Linked DNA regions of Homo sapiens. The protein of the gene in region 1 interacts with the protein of each later gene in a pairwise test. Each region holds a gene or a part of one and is shown in the gene's direction. Other genes may lie near its edges.

The links.
Region 2: the proteins of HUNK (region 1) and SMYD2 interact in a two-hybrid assay, tested with the Homo sapiens proteins (one large-scale study listed by BioGRID and IntAct).
Region 3: the proteins of HUNK (region 1) and LIMK1 interact in a two-hybrid assay, tested with the Homo sapiens proteins (one large-scale study listed by BioGRID and IntAct).
Region 4: the proteins of HUNK (region 1) and RAB5B interact in a two-hybrid assay, tested with the Homo sapiens proteins (one large-scale study listed by BioGRID and IntAct).
Region 5: the proteins of HUNK (region 1) and ABLIM1 interact in a two-hybrid assay, tested with the Homo sapiens proteins (one large-scale study listed by BioGRID and IntAct).
Region 6: the proteins of HUNK (region 1) and DLAT interact in a two-hybrid assay, tested with the Homo sapiens proteins (one large-scale study listed by BioGRID and IntAct).
Region 7: the proteins of HUNK (region 1) and IFT88 interact in a two-hybrid assay, tested with the Homo sapiens proteins (one large-scale study listed by BioGRID and IntAct).

Annotation. Positions count from the first base shown.
Region 1 is NC_000021.9:31,918,020-31,921,519, forward strand, and holds part of HUNK (hormonally up-regulated neu tumor-associated kinase), read left to right. Parts: intron 1-3,500.
Region 2 is NC_000001.11:214,315,659-214,319,158, forward strand, and holds part of SMYD2 (N-lysine methyltransferase SMYD2), read left to right. Parts: intron 1-2,420; coding exon 2,421-2,481; intron 2,482-3,200; coding exon 3,201-3,325; intron 3,326-3,500. UniProt on the Homo sapiens protein: Protein-lysine N-methyltransferase that methylates both histones and non-histone proteins, including p53/TP53 and RB1. Specifically trimethylates histone H3 'Lys-4' (H3K4me3) in vivo. The activity requires interaction with HSP90alpha.
Region 3 is NC_000007.14:74,086,804-74,090,303, forward strand, and holds part of LIMK1 (LIM domain kinase 1), read left to right. Parts: intron 1-3,500. UniProt on the Homo sapiens protein: Serine/threonine-protein kinase that plays an essential role in the regulation of actin filament dynamics. Acts downstream of several Rho family GTPase signal transduction pathways.
Region 4 is NC_000012.12:55,984,078-55,987,577, forward strand, and holds part of RAB5B (ras-related protein Rab-5B), read left to right. Parts: intron 1-2,791; coding exon of another isoform or gene 2,792-2,883; coding exon 2,884-3,046; intron 3,047-3,500. UniProt on the Homo sapiens protein: The small GTPases Rab are key regulators of intracellular membrane trafficking, from the formation of transport vesicles to their fusion with membranes.
Region 5 is NC_000010.11:114,441,776-114,445,275, reverse strand, and holds part of ABLIM1 (actin-binding LIM protein 1), read left to right. Parts: intron 1-1,141; coding exon 1,142-1,247; intron 1,248-3,489; coding exon 3,490-3,500. UniProt on the Homo sapiens protein: May act as scaffold protein. May play a role in the development of the retina. Has been suggested to play a role in axon guidance.
Region 6 is NC_000011.10:112,035,408-112,038,907, forward strand, and holds part of DLAT (dihydrolipoyllysine-residue acetyltransferase component of pyruvate dehydrogenase complex, mitochondrial isoform 2 precursor), read left to right. Parts: intron 1-1,865; coding exon 1,866-2,053; intron 2,054-3,500.
Region 7 is NC_000013.11:20,570,157-20,573,656, forward strand, and holds part of IFT88 (intraflagellar transport protein 88 homolog), read left to right. Parts: intron 1-2,864; exon of another isoform or gene 2,865-2,995; intron 2,996-3,500. UniProt on the Homo sapiens protein: Positively regulates primary cilium biogenesis. Also involved in autophagy since it is required for trafficking of ATG16L and the expansion of the autophagic compartment.

The DNA of each region.
Region 1 (3,500 bases):
GTGTTAGCTTTGTTTTGCCTGCAAACCTCTGATTACTGTCAAATTGAATTAGATGTCTCCCTTTGCTGATCACTGATTGACTTTTCCTTAATTTCCCATTCATTTTTTTTCCCCATTTCAGTTGTTATAGATGAAGTCGATTAAATGGTTTTGTGTAATCAAGAACGGCATTCCATTTCAGTATTATCAACTTGTAAGTATGGAGCTTGTAAGTCAGGGGGTGGATGAAAACAAGCTGATAATGAGCTGGTATTTGAAAATTGAGAGGGAGCTTAATAGGAAACCTTCTCCAAGGTGAGGTAGCTTAAGGGCTCAGGGTTTTCATGGAGGGAACCTTGATGGCAGAACTTGGGAATCAAGGTGTCAGATGATGGTAGGGCACACACCAGGGGTGTTAGTTTCCTGCAGCTGCTGTAACAAATGACCACAAACTTGGTGGCTTAAAACAACAGAAAGTGATTCCCTCACAGTCTGGAGGCTGGAAGTCCAAAATCAGTCTCATTGGAGATCAAGGTGTCAGTAGGGCCACGCTTCCTCCAGAGACCTAAGGGGAGACTTGGACTTTGCTTCTTCTCCCAGCCCCTGGTGGCTGCCATGGGCATCTCCTGGGCTTGTGGCCATGTTATTCTCTTGTCTCCGTCTTCACTTTGCTTTCTTCTCTGCTTGTCCATCTGATCCCCTCCGTCTTTTAAAGACATTTTTGATGGCATTTAGGACTCACCCAGTTAATCCAGGACAGCCTCCCCATCTGAAGACCATTAACTTCATCATGTCTGCAGAGTCCCATCCCCCTAAAGATGACATTTTCAGGTTCCAGGGATTAGGATGTGGGCCTATCTTTGGGAGGCCATTTTTCGACTTACCACACTGGGCCTGCTTCACGGAAGGCCTTGGTACGACGGCCCAAGGCCTGGGCTGGACTGAGTGGTATGAGGTTGAGGGGCTGGACTGAGCGGTATGAGGAGGAGGGGCTGGACTGAGCGGTATGAGGAGGAGGGGCTGGACTGAGCGGTATGAGGAGGAGGGGCTGGACTGAGCGGTATGAGGATGAGGGGCTGGACTGAGCGGTATGAGGAGGAGGGGCTGGACTGAGCGGTATGAGGATGAGGGGCTGGACTGAGCGGTATGAGGAGGAGGGGCTGGACTGAGCGGTATGAGGTTGAGGGGCTGGACTGAGCGGTATGAGGAGGAGGGGCTGGAATGAGTGGTATGAGGATGAGGGGCTGGATGGGGTTTCCAGGGGGTATTTCCCCAGCACCATAGATCACCTCATTGCCTTGTCCTTTCACCTTCAGGAAAGGGAGGAGGATGGGCTAGAGAAAGAGCAAGAAGTGAGAGAGTGGGGAGAAATGCTTGGAAATACTGCATTTGCACAGAAGTTGGAAGGTACAGGAAGAACTGCCTAAAGAAAAGCCTAGCATGCACCCTTAAGCCTGGCATGTGGGAACCAACACCAATTGTTAGGATGACTGTAATCGTACGGCTGTGATAATGAGGTCTAGATTCATGGAAAGAGCCACCTGGGCTGTCCTTTCTGTTCAGAGTGGTCTGCAGTGTAGACACTTGCTAACCAATTGTGGAGCTTCATAGGGTCCTATTTTGACATAGCTCATGGAGGTGCAAAACCCTGATATGGGCTGGTTCAGCCCTGGGAGTGGAGCCTGAGAGGGAGTTCGTGAAGACTCTGCTCTCCGTGGGTCTCATGGACGTGCGGGAGCAGAGGGGACGGTGGAGTCAATGAGGAATTGTCAGAGGCTCCTGAGACTACGCTGAAGGGCTAGAGTGAGGAGGAGAGAGAGGCTGCCGGTGAAAGGTGGCGTCATTCCCCACTGCCAAGGAGGGTCTCTCCATGCCTGGAAATGCGTCCCAAAGGGCATCAGATAGATTCCTTATATTTTCAGGGAAGCTATTTGTTCCTTGTGGCTGCTATAACAAATTACCACTCTGGTGGCTTAAAGTAACAAATTGATTCTCTCACAGTTCTGGAGGCCAGAAGTCTTAAAAAGTATTGGCAGGGCCACGCTCCCTCCAGAGACTCTAGGGGAGGATCCTTCCCTGCCTCTTCTGGCTTCCAGTGGCAGCCAACATTCCTTGGCTTGTCGCCCCTCACCCCAATGTCTGCCTCCTTCCTCCTGTGGCTGCCCCCTCTGCTTATTTGTGTGAAAACTCCTTCTTTCTCTATTTTATAAGGACACTTATGAGGACATTTAGGGCCTACCCAGGTAATCTAGGCTAATCTCATCTCAGAATTCTTCACTTAATAACTTCTGCAAAGACCCTTTTTCCAAATAAAGTCACATGATCCAGAGATTAGGCCATTATTCAACCTGGTACAGGCAATTGAAGAACTCAATAAGGTATCTTAACTATAATTGTGTACTCTGTTAAAAAGGCAGATTGTATTACTGCTGGGCCTTTAGACTTGTTTGTTTACAGTACTTGTAAGAATTTCATTGCCAGAGGGTGTAATTTTTTAGATACTGCCACACGGAGTGGAGCAAAGACAATGCCTAATTGTACTTTTCAGCATTCTTTTTTCTCCACCTCCCCAAGAGGATGGATATGAAATATGTGTGTGTCTATGTGTTTTTGGAGGGTAACAGTTAACAAAGCTGTTAGTTTAGCATCCCTTGAACTACTTGGGGCCAGACACAGCCAGAGTGTAACTTTACCTCCTGGGGGCTGAGAGCATCAGCCCGAGCTGACTTGAGGTAGTGCAGGCCCCATGCTGTGAGGTGTGGATGGCAGGGGCTCTTCTAGCCTGTCTGGTCCCCTTGGGGGCTGATTGACTCTTTGTTACTCCCATCTTTGGATTAAGGGCCTGAACCTCCCTATTAAAATGAGACTCTGGGCTGGGCACGGTGGCTCATTCCTATAATCCCCGCACTTGGGGAGGCCAAGGTGGGCGGATCACTTGAGGCCAGGAGTTTGAGACTAGCCTGGCCAACATGGCCAAACCCTGTCTCTACTAAAAATACAAAAATTAGCTGGATGTGGTGGCGGGTGCCTGTAATCCCAGCTACTCAGGAGGCTGAGGCAGGAGAATTGCTTGAACCCGGGAGGCAGAGGTTGCAGGGAGCCGCCAAGATTGTGCCACTGCATTCCAGCCTGGGCCACAGAGCGAGATTCCATCTCAAAAAAAAAAAAAAAAAAAAAAAAAAAAGAAGGAGACACTGCTCTATAGAGGAGATAATACATTATGCTGTTTATAGCCATCTTTGCTTTGGTGATTCCATTGGTTAGTCACTATTAGTCACTTGCTGTTTATGAAGCGCTGTGTGTCGTGAAGGGGGAGTGGTCCCTGCATTAAGCCATGACTTACATCTTACTGCAGATGCTGTTGTATAGGGACGTAGGGAAGGAAGGTGCGGGGGAGTCTCTCTGGTAGGGAGGTTAGCCTCTGAAGGACCTGGGGTTGGGGGCTTGAGTGGGGGAAGGGGGTGGCTGGAGTACCTGGAGAGTGATAGAATGCATGTCCCAGGGAGTGACAAGACATGCCA
Region 2 (3,500 bases), on another chromosome or scaffold:
GCGGCAGCAAGACAAGATGGTGGATCCCTGCACCATTACCCACCAGAGCCAGGGCTTATATACCATAGGGAAGAAATGTGTACAGCAGTTACAAGGAAAGGCAAGGATGCTATGCAAATCTGCCTGAGAGCAAGATTTGTGCTCAAGATTGTATTGACCTAAGGCAGGATTTAAGGTAGCCATAGACAAAGTAGAAATCTTAGAAGCATTCCCAGAGCAGGAGTTAACCAGAAATCAACATGGTATATCAGCATCCAAGATGAAATTGCTTTAGCCACCGTACTGACTGTTCTCCGCCTGGTCTGGTTCATTCTTGCTGATTGCATAATAATTAGACACCTAATCTTCGAAGGGCCAAACTAAAAAGAGGACAGGAAAATGCCATAGAACTTGTCCTTGTGATCCAATGAAATAGGCAGTGTGGGGCTTAGAAGGCATATGTCCAGGCTGTGGAGGTCTTGCTCCTCAGTGCTGTCAGAGAAGTTGGTGGCAGGGCCTCTGGACTATAAATCTTTTAAAGCTGAAATTTTGGCTGGGCATAGTGGCTCATACCTGTAATCTTAGCACTTTGGGAGGCCAAGGCAGAAGGATTGTTTGAATCCAGGAGTTCGAGACCAGCCTTGGCAACAAAGTGAGACCCATTCTCTATAATAAATTTTAAAAATTAAAAAAATTTCCCAGGTGTGGTGGTATACACCTGTGGTCCCAGCTATTCTGGAGGCTGAGGCAGGAGAATTACTGGAACCCGGAACTTCAAGGCTGCAGTGAGCTGTGATTGTGCCACCATACTCCATCCAGCCTGAGCAACAAAGTAAATGAGACTCTGTCTCTAAAAATGAAAAAAAAAAACAAACTGAAATTTCATCCACTTCTCCTGTATACCTACCAGCCCTCCTCCACCCTTAAAATTTTTCTATTTTTTAATCTAAGCCAAATGTGATGGAAATGATTAGCATGTATCTGTCCCCAGACCAAGTTAGGATCCTGGGCTGTGTAAACAGAAGTAGAACATTTCAAAACTCTGAGGTCATCCTTCAGCTATGTTCAGCTTGGGTCAGGTGCTTGCCGAAATGCTACCTCGCCAGCCAGCCGAGAGTAACAAAGGCCATTCATGGGTTGCCTGTAGAGTGAGACCAAAACATCAGAATTGTTTCCCTGCAGGAGGTTAACTTTCGGATCCTTAATAACAGTTATTTTTAAATTTATGCAGAGTATTTGGGCTGAATAAGTCAGAGGGAATAGGATGACTGGGTGTGAGGTATCAGAGTCAGTAAGTCATCAGATGGGATCTCCGCACATCTTGGGAGGATTGGGTGGCCAAGCTGGTGTTTTATTATTTTGTTCCCCTGAATTATTGATGATATTTATAGTGATATGTTAAGAATTCAGAAGAGGCTGGTAGACTTTCCTGAATGAAAAGCTTTCCCAAGCGAGATGACTTATAAATCTTATAAAAATGCATCCCGTGAATGGAAGATTTCTGCTCCAAAAAAGAACTATTGAAATATTTCGGCACCAGGAGGGTAGTCTGAATGCAAAGATGAGTTTATACAAGCTTCATTCAAGTTTTATTATAATTACTACTACTACTAATAGTGTATTAAATGAAAGTTACCTGCCCATCTTTTCATCTCTATAGGACTTGATGATTAAAAAAACAGACCATTTGTATTCTAGTAGCTTGCAAAGGATTAGGGGAGACAGGCTACCAAACTACCAAGGGGAGGCTTAACATGTTAACTAGGGAGGTGAGCGTGCCCTGCTAGACCACCTGTATCCCCAAATTGAATAGCCACATTACAAAGACATGGCCTTGGGCCAGCTCCTGAGCTCTGCCTTTGAACTCTTGTCAACACCAAGTTTATTCATGTTCTCAAAGCCTAGCGGGTTTACTATTGTTAGCTCCTCTTGGGGTGTCTAGAACAAAGCCAGCAACGCGTTTAAAGTGAATCTGGGCTCACAGATACAACCAAAAGTGTTCTTTTTGAAACACAGAATTTGAGATCATTTTAGCCTATGCTTAAAGAAAGTGTAAAATGGATGGGGGGTTTGATTTTGTTCCTTTTTAGAAGGAGAAATAATAAATAGGATGGTTTGTCTGTAGACCCAGTCCTTTTAAGTAAGGACCCTAAAAAGTTGTTTTCCGGCCCTGTTCTTTCCCGTAACAGGTATTTCTGAGCCTACTGTGTGCATAGTATTATCAGGGTGTTAGGTACACGGTAGACATTTAAAAAAGCGCTTTAGAAGAGTCTTTGGATTTGGCTGGTGGAGAGCCCTAGTGGTGGAGTCCTTGAGTAGCTTGTTTTACTTCCTTAAGAATTGTTACTTTTTCTTTATGTTGATGTAAAAGTGAAAGTGCCACTTTATTACACTGGTTGTTAAAAAATCTGTATCTGTGTGATTTCTTCCCCAATTGCTAGAAAATCCACCCAGAGAGAACACCTTCGGAAAAATTGTTAGCTGTGAAGGAGTTTGAATCACGTAAGTCTTTCTGTGACCAGCCGCGCAGTTCTCTCAGCCACAGATTTCACATGGGTTGGGCAGGATTGAAGCGAGGACGGGCTAGTTTGTGCTCAGAGGAGTAGTGATTTCTTTGATTACTAGTTTTTATTTTTACTCTTGTGCTGTTTCGAAAAGCACTTTTAGCTTTTTTCTTCTGAGTTGACAGGATTGTTAGGAAATAATTAAAGGAGGTAGGAGCTCCCAAAATGAATTATTGCACCCTGAGCTACCTCCTGCTGGCCCTCTTGGCATGCTGAATACTTTTGGATCTTTGCTGAATTGCGTCCTCTAAATAGCTGATGTTCTTACTGAAAGCCGTGAAATCAGGGGTTGTCCAGTTGTTTGACCACGGCCCAGATTCCCGGGCCAATTGGGGGGCCCTTGACTAGGCTGAGGCTGGTTATGAGTCATTGCTACCCATCCCTGACCTCATTGCTAACAGTCAGTCGAAATCTCACGTCCCAAGTGACTTCTAGTCATCAGAGGGAGAGAAGGAAGAAATGGCTTGCTTTCTTTCCTTAGGGTTTGTCAGTTAAACCAAGTAATGGGGAAGAATGTTCTCTGGGGGTTCAACATGTTAGTTTTGGGTTTTTTTTTTTTCGCCCGTTCCTTTCCTCTGTATCATTTACAGCAAAAATAGGATGTAGCTAGAAATCCCACGCTTTCTACTGGGTGAATAATGGATTATTTATCCACAGATCTGGATAAGTTAGACAATGAGAAGAAGGATTTGATTCAGAGTGACATAGCTGCTCTCCATCACTTTTACTCCAAGCATCTCGGATTCCCTGACAATGATAGCCTCGTAGTACTCTTTGCACAGGTAAGGACGCTGGCAGCAGGTAACACTCAGTCTGGCCTTTCCCTCTCCAAGGCCCTCTCCCTAGCAAGCACTCAGTGAAGATGAATGCAAATAGAATGATGGCATCTTCCTGACAACGAAGCTCTGAGCCAATTGGACCGTGTGTTGCCATAGCCTTGCTCAGTGACCTTGAGCA
Region 3 (3,500 bases), on another chromosome or scaffold:
GTGTTCATGCTCTTGCAGGGAGGGAAGACAAACCAGGCCTTAAGGGAAACCAGGCCACCCTCAGTGTCTTCCAGGCTGCTTGCGAACATGCATAACCCAGTCACACCAGCCCCAGTGTCCAGACACACACCCACAGGTAGGAAGAAAGTAGGGTCAGGGTTGTGGCGGAGGATAAAGAGTACATGAGGACCTGAAGGTCACCCAGTAGGACCATCCTGAGAAGCCAGGAGCAGGGGTCTACCTGCCTTGAGCCAGAGCAGGGCCAGAGCAGGGGTCTCAAAGGATGTGAGATTTCCTGGGTAGAAAAGTAGAGTGGAGGTGGGGCGTGGTGGCTCACACCTATAATCCCATCACTTTTTGGGGCTGAGGTGGGCAGATCACTTGAGTTCAGGAGTTCGAGACAAGCCTGGGCAATATGGCAACACCCTGTCTCCACTGAAAATACAAAAAATTAGCCGGGCGTGGTGGCGCATGCCTGTAGTCCCAGCTACTCAAGAGGCTGAGGTGGCAGGGTTACTTGAGCCTGGGAGGTGGAGGCTGCAGTGAGCTATGATCGCACCACTGCACTCTAGCCTGGGCAATAGAGCGAGACCCAGTCTCAATTTTTAAAAAAGAAAGAAAGAAAAACAAATGGTGTGGGAGAGAATTACAGGCATAGTCACCAAACAGCAAGGTTCAGGGGAGAAAACTCCATAAAAGGGTAGAAGGTGAAGCTTCTGGGATGCCCAGCAGGGGTCAAGACATCCACCACTAGGACTTTATTTTAGGCTTCTGCCTTGGTTTATTTTTTGGTTTTTGGTTTTTTTGAGACAGTCTTGTTGTGTCGCCCAGGCTGGGGAGCAGTGGCGCGATCCCTCCTCACTGCAACCTCCGCCTCCCAGGTTCAAGCGATTCTCCTGCTTCAGCCTCCCAAGTAGCTGGGATTACAGGTGTGCACCACCACGCCCGGCTAAGTTTTGTATTTTCAGTAGAGATAGGGTTTTGCCATGTTGGCCAGGCTGGTCTCGAACTCCTGACCTCAAGTGATCTGCCCGCCTCAGCCTCCCAAAATGCTGGAATTACAGGCATGAGCCACTGCACCTGGCCTCGGTTTGTTTTTTTGTTTCTTCTTTTCTTTTTTTTTACACAGGGTCTTGCTGTGTCACCCAGGCTGGCGTGCAGTGGTGAGATCATAGCCCACTGTAGCCTCCAGCTCCAACTGGTTCAAGCGATCCTTCTGACTCAGCCTCCCAAAGTGCTGGGATTACAAGCATAAGCCACCATGCCCAGCCTGTTTTTTCTTTTTTAGGAATAACGTCTAACGTTTTCTAACATTCAGTAAGGGACAACCCCTGTTCTAAGTACTTTGCATAGTTAGATATTAGTGCTGTCTTTGTTTTGCCAGAGAGAAAATTGGGACACAGAGAGGTTAATTCTCTTGATGAAAGTCACACAGCCAGTGAGTGAAATGAACACACTCAGTGTGGCTGAAAGGAGACAGACAGCATGCCCTGGGATTCTGCATCAGGTGCTCAGAAAGAGGCCTTCGGGGGGCAAGAGGGCTCTCAACAGGCAGAGGAAACCATCTGCACAGCGGTGGGATGGTGCGGACTGCTGAGGGAACAGGAACAGTTCCCTTGGAAGGAACAGAATAAGCTGAGGGATCCAACAAGAAACAAAGTTGAGACCGATTCGTGAAGGGCCTTGAATGCCAAGATAAGGAGTTTCAGAAGTCAGGATGGGGGTGGTGGCTCATCCCCGTAATCCCAGCACTTTGGGAGGCCGAGGCAGGCAGATCACTTGACCCCAGGAGCTTGAGACCAGCCTGGCCAACGTGGTGAAACCCCCGTCTCTACTAAATATTCAAAAATTAGCCAGGCATGGTGGCACATGACTGTAATCCAAGCTACTCGGGAGGCTAAGGAAGGAGAATCACTTGAACCTGGGAGGCGGAGGCTGCAGTGAGCTGAGATCACGTCACTGCACTCCAGCCTGGGAGACAGAGCGAGACTCCATCTCAAAAAAAAAAAAAAAAAAAAATAGAAGGGAGTCGGCAGAAAGCCAGGGAGGGGCTGGGGTGACATGCTGTTGAAGAATGCCATCCCAGTGGGCCGGTGGTGGTATCTAGGCAGGGAAGGGACTGTCCCAGTAACTCAAGGGTCTGAGCTCATAGGACCTGACCTGGGACAGTGACTGAGGATGGAGAGAATTTCAGGCAGAAGGGACAGTTTTTGGTGAGTATTTGTCATATTGGCTACCATGCATTGAGCACTCTTCATGCTAATTTGTTAAATCTTCATCATAACTCTATGAGGGACTGTATGTGCCCAGTTTGCATGGGAGAAACAGAGATTCCATGCAATCAAGTGCCTCGCTGAAGGTTGTAACATCTAGAGCTGGGACTAAAACCTTCTCACTCCACATCGCCACAGAGTAGGAAAGGCAGGGGCTGGCGGTGGCACATGCCTATAATCCCAGCCCTTTGGGAGGCGGAGGCAGGTGGATCTCTTGAGCCCAGGAGTTTGAGACCAGTGTGGGCAACATAGTGAAACCTTGTCTCTACAAAAAAATTAGCTGAGCATGGTGGTGGTGCCTGTAGTCCCAGCTACTCAAGGGCGCTGACATGGGAGGGTTGCTTGAGCCTGGGAGGTGGAGGTTGCAGTGAGCTATGATCACACCACTGCAAGCCAGCCTGGGTGACAGAGTGAAATCCCATCTCAAAAAAAAGAAAGAAAGGAAGAAAGAAAAAGACAGGGGCTTCGGGGAGGGCATGGGCACTGGCGAATGGCAGGGTGGAACCTGAAGCCATCTGGTTTTCTAACCTGGGCACTGGGGAGTTGGTGGTTTGTTGACTCTGATGGAATTGGGGGTCATGTTGGGGAGGAGACATGCTCATCTGTGTTGAGCTGGAGGGGACATGGGCTATCCATGGTGGCTGTGTCCTGCCCAGAGCTAGCCATGGGAGCCTGAGTCCAGTTGGAGGTAGGAAAGTCAGAAAAAACGGCCGCCTCGGAGCTGGCCCTGAGATGGTGAGTGGGATTTGTGATAGGGCCAAGACGAATGAAGGGAAGAACTTTGGGGACCCCTGTGTCTGCGGTGAGGGGGGAGATGGAGCCTTGGGTGATGGAGAGAGGGTCAGGAGTAGAGCCACAGAAGCCACAGGAGGGAAGCCGTGTTACAGGATGGGTGTACCTGGCTTTGGAGTGGCCTGTCCCAAATCACTCACCAGGAGAGGGGTGAGTCCCCAGGTCAGGGCAGTAAAGAGGAGGCATGTTTGTGCTGTCCCTGGTGTAGTGAAACTCAAGAAGGAAGCCAGGTGCAGTGGCTCACGCCTGTAATCCCAGCACTTTGGGAGGCCAAGGCAGGCAGATCACCTGAGGTCGGGAGTTTGAGACCAGTCTGGCCAACATGGTGAAACCCCATCTCTACTAAAAATACAAAAATTAGCCGGGCCTGTTGGTGGGCGCCTGTAATCCCAGCTACTCAGGAGGCTGAGGCAGAAGAATCGCTTGAACCCGAGA
Region 4 (3,500 bases), on another chromosome or scaffold:
GTGGCACGATCTCGGCTCACTGCAACCTCCGCCTCCCGGGTTTAAGCAGTTCTGCCTCAGCCTCCCGAGTAGGATTACAAATGCCGGCCACCAACCACACCCGGCTAATTTTTTTTTTTTTTTTTTAGACTGAGTCTCGCTGTTGCTCTGTCGCCAGGCTGGAGTACAGTGGTGCAATCTCAGCTCACTGCAACCTCCACCTCACAAGTTCAAGCAGTTCACCTGCCTCAACCTCCCAAGTAGCTGGGACTACAGGCACGCGCCACCACGCCCAGCTAATTTTTGTATTTTTAGTAGAGACGGGGTTTCACCATGTTTGCCAGGCTTGTCTCAAACTCCTGACCTCCTGATCTGCCTGCCTTTGCCTCCCAAAGTGCTGGGATTACAGGCGTGAGCCACTGTGCCCGCCTTTTATTTTTTGAGACGGAGTCTCGCTCTGTCACCCAGGCTGGAGCACAGTGGCGCATCAGCTCAGTGCACCCTCTACCTTCTGGGTTTAAGCGATTCTCCTGCCTCAGCCTCTGGAGTAGCTGGGATTACAGGTATGCACCACCACACCCAGCTAATTTTTTTTGTATTTTTAGTGGAGACGGGGTTTCACCATGTTGGCCAGGCAGGGCTCGAACTTCTGACCTCAGGTGATCCACCTCAGCCTCCCAAAGTGCTGGGATTATAGGTATGAGCTACTGCACCCAGGCTGTGGCTGCTTTTTAGGAATATATTGATAACAACTAATATTGAGATATATTTTAATAGCTATTAGCACTATGCTAAACACATCTTTCACTTATTATTTGTAGCTATGAGGATGGTATTTTTTCCATTTTACAAAGGTAGAAGGTAAGGCTTAGAGAGGTAGAGAAATTCTCTTTATATCATATTAGTAATGATTAGTAGCTTAATATTTATTTAGCACTTAGTATCTATCAAATACTTAAAATACTTTAGTTATTTATATGCATTATCTCATTTAATCCTTACAACACCCTTATGAAGTAGGTGCTTATAAGGCTATTATCTCATTTTACAGATGAGGAAATGAATGCACACATATATTTAGTGACTTGCTCAAGGTTCATAGCTAGTAAGTAGAGCTGAAAAACAAACGTGGAGAATTGGACTCCAGAGCCTTTATTCCTCTGAATTGCCTCCTGTATGATTTTCTGTCTTTACGATCTAGTAAGTGGGGTTACTGAAAATTTTTAACCCCAGTTTAACTCCAGTCCCACTAATTGTGGTGACAAAATAATGATGTTTCCCCACATATGCCATAGAGTATGATGTCTGTGAAGTCACTAGGATCTGCTTTGGAAAAGCGAAAGAGTAATTTGAACAAGCAAAGTACAACTCTCAAGCAATGCTTAGGTTTGGGAGAGAGGTTTTTGCATGCTCTGCCTATGCTAACTTCCCTTTGAATTTCATAGTTCCTTTCCGCTCAGAGTCAGGATGATGAAATGTATTCAGATTTAGACGATTAGAATCTCAAAGTCCCAACTCTTCTCTCTGTTCCCTGCCCCACCAGCAGCTTTCTTAGCCCTCTTAGAAGATAGAGGAGCTGATTCAGTGTATTCTTTCATCAAATACTGATTGCTTGCAGACTTAACGCCCTATACCATCCTCTGGAGACTTCTGCATGTCTTTAGAAGGTATACCTTTCTCTGCCTCTAATTTGGAGGGCTACAGCTGTTAGGCCCCTTTGGTGTGGAGGGTAATCTAATCCCTAGGCACCAGCAAGACAGCTGCAAGTTGAGAGTAGGTCAAGCTTACTGATTCTTGATAGACTTTCAGATTTGGAAAGATGGCAGAAACAAAGTGAAAAAAGAGTTGTTAATGAAACAAAGAGTTGATAATGAATGTGATCTGTTGGTTGTATTTCTCTCTTTACCTTCAACCAAAAATGAGAAAGGATAGATTTTGTGGCAATGGGACCCTGGTTAGATCTTTAGAAATGTCTTATCAGGGAGACCGGTCATATATAAAGGATACAGCAGCAACTACCCTTCTGCCCTTAGGAGTGGTGACTCTTATCCCACACCCCTAGAGTGAATCTCTCATTTTGACAAAGAGCTAAGGAAAAATGAAAAGAAGGCCAGGCACGGTGGCTCATGCCTGTAATATCAGCACTTTGGAAGGCCAAGGCGGGCAGATCACCTGAGGTCAGGACTTCTTAGACTAGTCTGACCAACATGGAGAAACTCCGTCTCTACTAAAAATACAAAATTAGCCAGGCGTGGTGGTGCATGCCTGTAATCCCAGCTACTCGGGAGACTGAGGTGGGAGAATTGCTTGAACCCGGGAGGCAGAGGTTGTGGTGAGCCAAGATTGTGCCATTGCACTCCAGCCTGGGCAACAAGAGTGACGTCTCAAAAAAAAAGAAGAAAAGGAAAAGAAGAGCACAGCACCAGGATGCCAAGGAGATACTGGGGATCTAGGGTACCGGTGGGTGGATCTGGATATTCTTCAGGCCAGCTAAAGGTTGATCACTTTGTGTGACTCAAACAAAAAACTTTGAAGACCTGGTGGGGAATTACTGGGGAATTAAAAACTCTCAGTTTTCAGTCTCTCTATTTCGGCTCCCTTGGCAGTTAGAGATTATGTGGTAGGGCAGACTCCAGAAGCAGTTCTTATTTTGCTCTTCCCAACTCTTACCACTGAGGATCAGCTGCCTGGGACCTTCTCAGAGCTAAGTCCTCATAGAAGCAAGGAGATGAAGAGGTTCTATCCTTCTCTGAAAAGCGATTGCAGCTTCAATGGACGTATGTTTAATTTTATTCACTTTTTTTTCTTGCAGGAGTGTTGAAGCCTGGAAATCCCCTCCCCTTCCCCCTCCCCCCTTTACAGTATCCCCCTCCCTCCACCCTTTCCCATTCTGATAATCTGGCCATGACTAGCAGAAGCACAGCTAGGCCCAATGGGCAACCCCAGGCCAGCAAAATTTGCCAGTTCAAATTGGTCCTGCTGGGAGAATCTGCAGTGGGAAAGTCAAGCCTGGTATTACGTTTTGTCAAAGGGCAGTTCCATGAGTACCAGGAGAGCACCATTGGAGGTGAGTGCCTTGGGGTAATAGGAGATTGAATGTTTGGTAAGGGTTTTTTTTTTTTTAGATGGAGTCTTGCTCTGTTACCCAGGCTGGAGTGCAGTGGCGCAATCTTGGCTTACTGCAACCTCTGTCTCCCAGGTTCGAGCGATTCTCATGCCTCAGCCTCCCGAGTAACTGGGATTACAGGTGCACACCGTGGCACCTGTCTAATTTTTGTATTTTTAGTGGAGAGGGGGTTTCACCATCATGTTGGCCAGGTTGGTCTCAAACTCCTGACCTCAGGTGATCTGCCTGCCTCGGCCTCCCAAAGTGCTGGGATTACAGGCGTGAGTCACCACGCCGGGCCGGTAAGGCTTTTGAAAAGAGATATAAGACCTGATTATGGAGCTGGCCCTCTTAGTCCCATTCTTTTCCCCAGAAATGGAAACCCTTTATAAAAACAGAGGCCGGTCCCAGTGGC
Region 5 (3,500 bases), on another chromosome or scaffold:
CTAGTTACATAAGATCTATATTTTTTGAATGACTACTATGTATAAACCATCTAGATAGGCAAGAGGTGGTCCCAGTCTTCAAGGGGCTTGAAATCTGGCAGGCAAGGCAAGACAGGTGTCTGTTAATAGTAACTAGAATATGGCAGAATACCTGCTGGGCTCTAGAGGAGATGGCATTGGTGCTGGAGGTCAGAGGGGTGTGGAAGGTTTGGGTTGTTGTGGGAAGGAAAGAGAGACCACATGGGGGCATGTGTGCAGTGCATGTGTTGAAAGGCTGCTGGAGGGCCAGGCAGAGCAAGGTGGTATCCACCCAGGTAGTGCCACACCTTCCTTCCCTCATGCAGTTCTGCTGAAGGAATGACTGTGGGATTGAACATTTCTCCAAGTCTTTTCCCAGGATGTGGGCCAGGAGAAAAGGAATGAAAGGAATGGCCACCATGAAGGGGTCCTCTTCATACCCTCCTTCCTGTAGCAAGGGCCTGCAGCAGCCCAGAAGGACAGTCTGTTATCAGTCAAGAGGCTGCTGAATCCTTTCAAATGATGTTTTCTAAGCATATAGGAAATGCACGTGATATTAGTCAAAGGATACAAAGTTGCATTTATAGTATGATCTCAGTTTTATATGTGTGTATACAAAAATACTAGATAGATATAAATCAAAAGATAGTGTTATTTCTGAGTGACATATTATGGGTTACTCTTCTTTTCTTCTAGATTTTCCAAAATCTGTAAAATTAGCATGTATTACCTTTATTTCTTGTTTTTAAACAAATCAAGGCAATTTCTTTTTAAAGGATACCAGCCCCAGTCTTCCCTTCCCACATCAAAAATCCACACACACTCACACATGCCTTCTGAGGTCTCCTGGCTCTTTAGGGAAAGCAGAGGAAGGAAAACGTTCTTCTAACACAGAGCCTGACTTAGGGAAATGGAGCTTTGAAACTGAAAGGGCTAAGAGGGTTTAGGGTCCCAAACTTGACCTACCTCTTCAGGAACTACCAGGCTCTGGGGCCACATGCATTCAGGCCCTCCAGCAAGAGAAACTTCTTGTGGGATCTGCTACAAAGAAACTGCAGCTCCATGAAAGTAATTGCAAGCTTTGCTTTCTTTTTTTTTTTTTTTTCCTTTTTTCTGTGAATAGCTTAACTCAGGCCTGGGACAGTTGATCTTGAAAGAAGAGATGGAGAAAGAGAGCCGGGAAAGGTCATCTCTGTTAGCCAGTCGCTACGATTCTCCCATCAACTCAGGTAAGCAGCAAACCCCCAACCTTCCCTGATTCGAGAGCCAGCCACCTGCTTGTAAGGCACCTGCCTTGACTGTTCACTTGTGGTGGAACCTACAGAGTATTCCACGGGAAAGGAAGTGTGGGAAACCCACTCCATGTCAAATGAGCTCATAAGCATGTCATGGGTCTTCCATAAATGTGTGTTTCCTTTCTTCTGGAAATGGGTGAACCCTTGGAGGTTCTCAAAATCCATGAAGGCCAATCCCCATATACTAGGTTTGTCTTCTAGAACACTCATCTCCAAGGGAAGCAGCAAAAGGAAATCCTCTAAAAAACATGATGCTTTTCTTCTTCTTCTTTTTTTTTTTTTTTTTTTTTAGATAACATGAATAAGACATTTTCTAAGCATTATGATTTTACATTAATATCTTCAATAGAGGCCGGGTGCGGTGGCTCATGCCTGTAATCCCAGCACTTTGGGAGGCCAAGGCAGGCGGATCACCTGAGGTCAGGAGTTTGAGACCAGCCTGGTCAACGTGGCGAAACCCCATCTATACTAAAAATACAGACATTAGCCAGGCGTGGTGGTGGGCTCCTGTAATCCCAGCTACTCGGGAGGCTGAGGCAGGAGAATCACTTGAACCTGGGAGGTGGAGGTTGCAGTGAGCTGAGATCACACCATTGCACTCCAGCCTGGGCGACAAGAGTGAAACTCCATCTCAAAAAAAAAAAGAAAAAAAATCTTCAATACAAGAACTGAGGATGAACAGTGTTTTTGATACTTTTGAAGAAGATGACTTATACACTGGGCTGAAATAGCCTATCAGTGTATTTTCCCCTGTATCTATTTGTCATAAGCCAATTCTCTCTTAAACCACAAGATTTCTTCTCTCATATTCTGAGCTAGAGCATAATTTTCTCCTCTAAGAGTTCCTTTAAAAATGCATTTAGTGGGGAGACCAAGGCGGGCAGATCACAAGGTCAGGAGATCGAGACCATCCTGGCTAACACAGTGAAACCCCGTCTCTACTAAAAAATACAAAAATCAGCCAGGTGTGGTGGCGGGCTCCTGCAGTCCCGGCTACTCGGGAGGCTGAGGCAGGAGAATGGCGTGAACCCAGAAAGCTGAGCTTACATTGAGCCAAGATTGCGCCACTGCACTCCAGCCTGGGTGAGAGTGAGACTCTGTCTCAAAAAAAAAAAATGCATTTAATGTTCACTCCATGCAAGCATTTTTGCTAAACATTTTATTTAATGTTCACAACATGCCAGTGAAGTAGATGTGGTTGTTATTAGCAACTGCAGCATTTTCATCTCTATTTTAGAAATCAGGAGGCTGGTATAGAAATTGAGTTAACATACCCAGCGTGATACGCCAATAACTAGCAAGACTAGGATTTAGAAGTCCACATATTATAACCCCGGAGCCCACACCCTTACCTGGAATTCCCGCTACCCTTCATAGATGCCTCACTGGCATTGATCTTGGATTCGGTGGTTTACAAATCTTTAGAGTTCCTTGGAATTCTGAGATTCTGCTCTATAAGAATGTATAACATTGTACCTGCATAGATGAAGAAATGAGGACTTCAGAAAGATTAAACACCATGTCCGGAGATACAGAGGTATTAAGTTGCAGAACCAGAATTCAAGCCCAGGGCTGCTCCCTCTCAAGCCCAGCAGCTTATCAGGCTTCCATATCATTGACAGATACCCTGTATCAGGCCTCCCAGGAGGCCAGCTGTAGATGGCTGGTAGATCTTGATAACATACAGGGTTGGCTTCCAGTTCAGTTACTGCTGCCTTATCAACTGGGGCATGGGCTAATGTATTCAGATATCCCTGATTTACATCCTTGCTCAGCTGTTTAGAAGCTTAGTAACTGTTGGCAGGATATTTTTCTTAGCCCCTATTTCTCCTTCTGTAATATGGAACTAATAATCATAGTGTTATTAGGGTTATATTGAAGATTCAAAGAAATAAAGCATGCTGAACACTTAGCTCCATGCCAGAGCTATAGGAAGCACAGCCAGCTTCAGCCCCCACTCAACCGCGTGGACTTGACTTTCCCTTCCCTCCTCAGTCATATCACTGTCCACCCACTCCTTGCAAATATGATGGCATATTTTTGAACATTTGAGCCCAATATGATTTGAATTTTTTTGGTATTTCTATCCTGTGAGGTAGAAGATACTGCCAATTTCATTAAAGGATTGGACCTTCTGATTTCCTAACAATTGGTTTTTTACTTTTTTCTTACTCAGCTTCACATATT
Region 6 (3,500 bases), on another chromosome or scaffold:
AGAGACTAGTCACTAGAGAAGTGTTACCTTGGTTGAACTTTGAAGTCTATTGTGGCCCAGGAGCCTTTTCATTTTAAACACTTCTTTTTTTTTTTTTTGGAAACAGAGTCTGGCTCTGTTGTCCAGGCTGGAGTGCGGTGGCGTGATCTCGGCCCACCACAACCTCTGCCTCCTGGGTTCAAGCGATTCTCCTGCCTGAGCCTCCTGAGTAGCTGGGACTACAGGTGCATGCCACTACGCCCGGCTAATTTTTGTATTTTTAGTAGAAATGTGGTTTCACTATGTGGGCCAGGCTGGTCTTGAACTCCTGACCTCGTGATCTGACTGCCTTGTGCCTCCCAAAGTGCTGGGATTACAGGCGTGAGCCACCACCGCACCCAGCCTTTTTTTTTTTTTTTTTTGAGATAGAGTCTTGCTTTGTCGCCCAGGCTGGAGTGCAATGGCATGATCTTGGCTCACTGCAATTTCCACCTCCCGGGTTCAAGCAATTCTCCTGCCTCAGCTGCCCAAGTAGCTGGGATTACAGGCGCCTGCCACCATGCCTGGCTAATTTTTGTATTTTTAGTGGAGATGGGGTTTCACCATGTTGGCCAGGCTGGTCTTGAACTCCTGACCTCAGGTAATCCACCTACCTTGGCCTCCCAAAGTGCTGGGATAACAGGCGTGAGCCACCGTGCCCAGCCTTAAACATATATATATATATCTCCAGACTTAAACATATATATATGTGTGTGTATATATATATATGTGTGTGTATATATGTGTGTGTGTGTGTGTGTGTGTGTGTGTGTGTGTTTTTTTTTTTTTTTTTTTTTTTTTTTTTGAGACGGAGTTTCGCTCTTGTTGCCCAGGCTGGAGTGCAATGGCACGATCTCGGCTCACCACAACCTCCACCTCCTGGGTTCAAGTGATTTTCTTGCCTCAGCCTCCCGAGTAGCTGGGATTACAGGCATGCGCCACCATGCCTGGCTAATTTTGTATTTTTAGTAGAGACGGGGTTTCTCCACGTTGGTCAGGCTGGTCTCGAACTCCCGACCTCAGGTGATCCACCCGCCTCGGTCTCCCAAAGTGCTGGGATTACAGGCATGAGCCGCCGCGCCCAGCCTAAACATATTTTTTATTGGGTATTCTCAGCTGGGAAATGGAAGGATTCATCAAAGATGTGTTCATCAAGGAGAGGCACAACAGTACAGAAAGCCAATGGCTTCTTTTAGTTTTACTTTTGCAATCCTAAATGTTTAAGTTCTTTGCAAGGAAGGCAGTAGTTGAATAAAATATAAGTTGTCAACACCATAGAAATCCCAGTAAAGCTGTAATTCTTTACATTGAAATACTTGGTATAATATCAAGTATAACCTCTTTGAAAAGTTCCAAAGATGCTTTTAGGGCTGAAATCCAACATTAGTATCTAGGTTGGTAGCTCCCTTAATTAGGCATGTATGTGGTTCTTATCTTTAGCAGCATAGCTGACACCATCTTAGAGTCCTGTGAGTCTGCATGGGGACTGTCCTTGGAGATTTTTTAATAACTTTGAGAACTAACCACTGTCTGTAATCTTTCATAGTTTTATTGAACAGATTTTTATTTGGCATTTACTTTGTACCAGGTTGTATTATTTCTAAGAACTTGAAAAATATTAATCTGTTTAAATGTATAACATCCCAGTACCAATCCAGTGAGATTGGTACTATTATTATCCCCGTATTGTAGGTAAAGAAACCAAGACACAGAAGGTTAAATAGGTTGCAAAAAAGGCTATATAGCTAGCTTGAATGAGAAAAATCACTTTACTTAAAACTGTGCTGTGAGTTTGGAGGGATAGTGGAATCTCTTAAGTCCCATAATGTTTTTTCTTTCTATTTAAGGTTTTGAAGTACAGGAAGAAGGTTATCTGGCAAAAATCCTGGTCCCTGAAGGCACAAGAGATGTCCCTCTAGGAACCCCACTCTGTATCATTGTAGAAAAAGAGGCAGATATATCAGCATTTGCTGACTATAGGCCAACCGAAGTAACAGATTTAAAACCACAAGTGCCACCACCTACCCCACCCCCGGTAGGTATGCTTCTAGAATTCAGGAAACACTTACCTTGTTCATCTCTAAATTAAGGAGTTTTGATTAGATGATATCCTAGGTTCCTTCCACCTCCAAGATTCTATGACTGAGGAGGGAGATAGTTTATTAACATTTGTGGAGACCTATAGTGTTTGTTGTACTGCACTGTTCACCTAATGGTTGATAGTTTGGGCCTTGTAGCTTTTTTCTTCCTGCTATCTAGAGTCCTGCTGAGAACAAAGCTGAGTGACATGTTCTCTTTCTGCTTTAGATACAGATACCATGCTTGTGGAAAGTAAGGCTTCATTGCCCCACCCTTTTTTTTTTTTTTTAAGAGACAAGGTCTCACCCTGTTGCTGAGGCTGGAGTGCAGTGGTGCAATCATAGCTCACTTCATTGCCCATTTATTATTAAATATACTGAATAATCTCTGTCACTTGAAATCCTCTTGTTATTGACTTAGTAGGTCAAGCATATATTTGTGATACAGTGGAACCTTGACATGACTTGTTTTGCCTAGAATTTATTATATCACCAAATACTTGATACACTATATAACTATAACCTGAACTTGTATAACTCCAACCAGAGATAACACTGACAGTGAAGCTTCAGTGATTCTCACAGATGCTAGAATCATGTGAGTTTAAACTAGGTAAACATTTCTATAAGAGAAAAGTTGATTTCTGACTACTGTACATTTGTGGGAAGCTGGCAAGTAGCATTGTTGTTGGATTTCTTTTGTTGTTGTTGTTGAGACGGAGTCTTGCTCCGTCACCCAGGCTGGCGTGCAGTGGCGTGATCTTGGCTCACTGCAGCCTATGCCTCCCGGGTTCAAGCAATTCTCCTGCCTCGACCTCCCGAGTAGCTGGGATTACAGGTGTTAGCCACCATGCCCGGCTAATTTTTTTATTTTTAGTAGAGAAGGGGTTTCACCGTGTTGGCCAGGCTGGTCACGAACTCCTGACCTCAGGTGATCCACCCACCTCGGCCTCCCAAAGTGCTGGGATTACAGGTGTGAGCCACCACACCTGGCCGTATTTCTTAAGATACTTTTCAACATGGGGCCTTACAGCATAATTTTATATTTTGAAATTAGCTGGCTGGGTGTGGTGGCTCATGCCAGTAATCCCAGCACTTTGGGAGGCTGAGGCAGGTGGATCGCTTGAGGTCAGGAGTTCAAGACCAGCCTGGCCAACATGGTGAAACCCCATCTCTACTGAAAATACAAAAAATTAGCTGGGCGTGGTGGTGCGTGCCTTTAATCCCAGCTACTTGGGAGGCTGAGGCAGGAGAATTGCTTGAACCCAGGAGGCGGAGGTTGCAGTGAGCCAAGTTTGCGCCACTGCACTCCAGCCTGGGTGACAGAGCAAGACTCTGTCTCAAATAAAAAGAAAAAAAAAAAAGAAGTTAGGATAATTAAAAATAAAAATCATGTTGGTGATG
Region 7 (3,500 bases), on another chromosome or scaffold:
CAATACTACAATGAGATACCATTTCATACTCACTAGAATTGCAATAATCAAAAACAGGAACAGTAACAGATGTTGGCTAGGACATGGATAAATTGGAAACTTCATGCATTGCAGGTGGGATGTAAAATAGTGCAGCCACTTTGGAAAACAGTCTAGCTGTTCCTCCAAAAGTTAAACATAGAGTTACTATATGATCCAGCAATTCCTTTACTAGATATATTCCCAATAGAATTGGACCTATATATGCATGCTAAAACTTGTACACACACATTCATAGTGATGTTATTCATAAAAGTCAAAAAGTGGAAACAATTCAAATGTCCATTAACTAATGAATGGATAAGCAAAATGTTGCAGATGTATTTAGCCATAAAAAGTAATGAAATATTGATACATACTACTGCGTGGATGAACCTTGGAAGCATTATGCTAAGTGAAAGAGACCAGACACAAAAGGCTACATATTGTGTAATTTCCTTAATATGAAATGTCCAGAATTGGCAAATCCATAGAGACAGAAAATGGTTGCCAGGGACTGGGGAAAGGGAAGGGAGGCATGGAGAGCTGCTAACAGGCCCCATATTTCTTTATGGGATGATGAAAGTGTTCTGGAATTACATACTGGGGATGGTTGCACAACCTTGTGAATATACTAAAAACCACTGCACCTTGAAAAGTTAAATTGTATGGTATATGAATTATAGTTCAAAAACTAATAATTTTGTTAGTATTTAAAATATATAAATAATTTTTAAAGGTTATGAGAAGCCACATATATGTGGTATTATGCTGAGAAAAAGATTAAGCTGAAAATTTATTTTTTATTTATTTATTTTTATTATTTATTTATTTTTTGAGACAGAGTCTGGCTCTGTCGCCTAGGCAGGGGTGTGGTGGCACAATCTCGGCCCACTGCAACCTCCGCCTCCCAGGTTCAGGCCATTCTCCTGCCTCAGCCTCCTGAGTACCTGGGATTACAGGTGCCTGCTATCATGCCCGGCTAATTTTTTTGTATTTTTAGTAGAGACGGGGTTTCACCATATTAGCCAGGATGGTCTCGATCTCCTGACCTCGTGATCTGCCTGCCTCGGCCTCCCAAAGTGCTGGGATTATAGGCGTGAGCCACTGCGCCCAGCCTAAGCTGAAAATTTCTTAGGAATTTGCTGGTGCACTTAAAATGTACAGGCCTTAAGAAAATATGTATTTGCTTTAAAGAAAATACATTTCTTGAATACTAGCAATACTACATTTCTTGGGTAATTAGCCTTCCTCCACCTCCCACCCCTCAAATTGCCTAAAATATTGACTTGATTTGAATGATACTTCCAGGAATCCTTGCCAGATTCTTTAGTAATTATTAGATTTACAGTATATCTATATGGTAATTTCATTTCTCCCATGCTTCTGTCCAAGTCAAAATGTAGAGATGAATCTTGAAATTTTACATTTTTATTTGGGAAGAAAGAATTGCAGTTTGAGGACCAGGTGGTCTTTGGTATGTCCAAAGAACAAAGAGAAGGTTGGAGGTTTATCAAAAGGAGAAGTGTCATGTAGTGCTCTTTGAGAAAGTTCACTGGAACTAGTGAGGTTCTGGGAAGCTGGCAAGTTCTAATTGGTGGGTAGCTGTGGTGGGCACAATTAGTCCTATATTTGCAGCAAGTTATCTCAGCAGCTATAAATAAAATTGGCCTCAGGTTTTAGCAGCCAGTTTCAGCAGCCAGACTTGCAGAGAATTCCATTCTTCAAGCAATGTTATGTGTCCTGAGTGCCTCCCCACCAACACACCCCAGCTTCTTGACTCTGTTTTAGTTGGGTATGACAAGAATGACTCAAATTTGTATGATCAGCTTTCACTCTTCTGTTTCATTTTGCTTTGATATCTTTTTTTCTGTCTTGCATTTTTTCCCTCAACATTTCATTATGAAAATTTTCAAACATGCAGCAAGGTTTAAAGAATTTTATGTTGAATGTTACTCCTGCTACCTAGATTCCACCATTAACCTTTTTCTATAGCTGCTTTATCATGTACTTATCCATTTACCTATCTCTCAATCCATCTATCAAGCCATCTTTTTTTTTAGAGACAGAGTCTCACTCTGTCACCCAGGTTGGAGTGCAGTGGCATGATCTCAGCTCACTGCAACCTCTGCCTCCTGGGTTCAAGCGATTCTCGTGCCTCAGCCTCCCAAATAGCTGGAATTACAGATGTGCACCACCATGCCCGGCTAGTTTTTGTATTTTTAGTAGCGATGGGGTTTCACCATCTTGACCAAGCTGGTCTCAAACTCCTGACCTCAAGTAATCCACCCGTCTTGGCCCTCCAAAGTCCTGAAATTACAGGCATGAGCTACGGCGCCCGGCCTAAGCTGTCTTATTTTATGTATTTTAAGCTAAATTACAGCTATTACATGTTCCCTGAAATAACAGCATGCGTATCAATTATATAGTTCAATATTTGTTTATAGTTCTTACTTTTGAGGTAAAATTTACAAAGCAGAAATCGCAGTGTATATTTGCTGAGTTTTCACAAATGCATACACTTGTGCGACTCAAACCCCTGCCAAGATACAGAACATTTATCATCACCCCAGAAAATTCTCTCATGTCCCTTTCCATTCAATCCCTAACCCCCATCCCCAAGAAGCGATCTCAGTTCTGATGGTTTTCTACCGCAAATTAGCTTTGCCTGTTTGAGAACTTCATATAAAGGAAACAGTGCATAATGTACACTCTATGTAAGGCTTCTTTCACTCAGCATAATTGGGATTCTTTTTTATTGCTGGATAGTACTTCATTGCGTAAGTATGCCACATTTTGCTTGTCCATTTTACTGATGGGTATCTGGTTTGTTTCTGATTTTTCAGTATTATGAATAAAGCTATGACAAAGAAAAGAAAGGTTTAATTTGAAGAATGAGACTCTCCTCTAAATTACCAGGTCCAGAGAGGCGTGGGAGTGAAACAGCAGTCACATCTCCTTTACCTTCTTGGGCTAAGTAATCATGTCTTGAAACTTGCTTGCTATTGCCATAAGTAGCTATAAATTAATCTAACAATGGCACTGTCTGGATACTATAACCCATACAATGTAGCCAATCACTAATCAACGTTATTTTTTTAAACCAGTGAGAATTTCTGACAGACAGCTTTGTATCAGCCCACTCCCTGCCCCACTTTTTTGCCTTTAAAGATCTGCTTGAAACAAAGGCCAAATGGAGCGCCTGTCCAAGGTTACATGAAGTCTGAGTGTTCTGGGCAGGCAGCCGTCCTCATTTTGGCTCAAGTAAACTTTTTAGAATTGTATTTTATGCCTCAATTCCTTTCTTTAGGTCGACAGCTACTATGAACATTCTTATACAAATCTTTTTGTAGACATATGTTTTCATTCCTCTTGAGTAAATATTTTTGAGTGGAATTGCTGGGTGATAAAAGGTACTTTTAATAAAAGTTAATTTTATGAAACTGCAAGACTTTTCTCCCAAAGTGTATCATTTTACACTC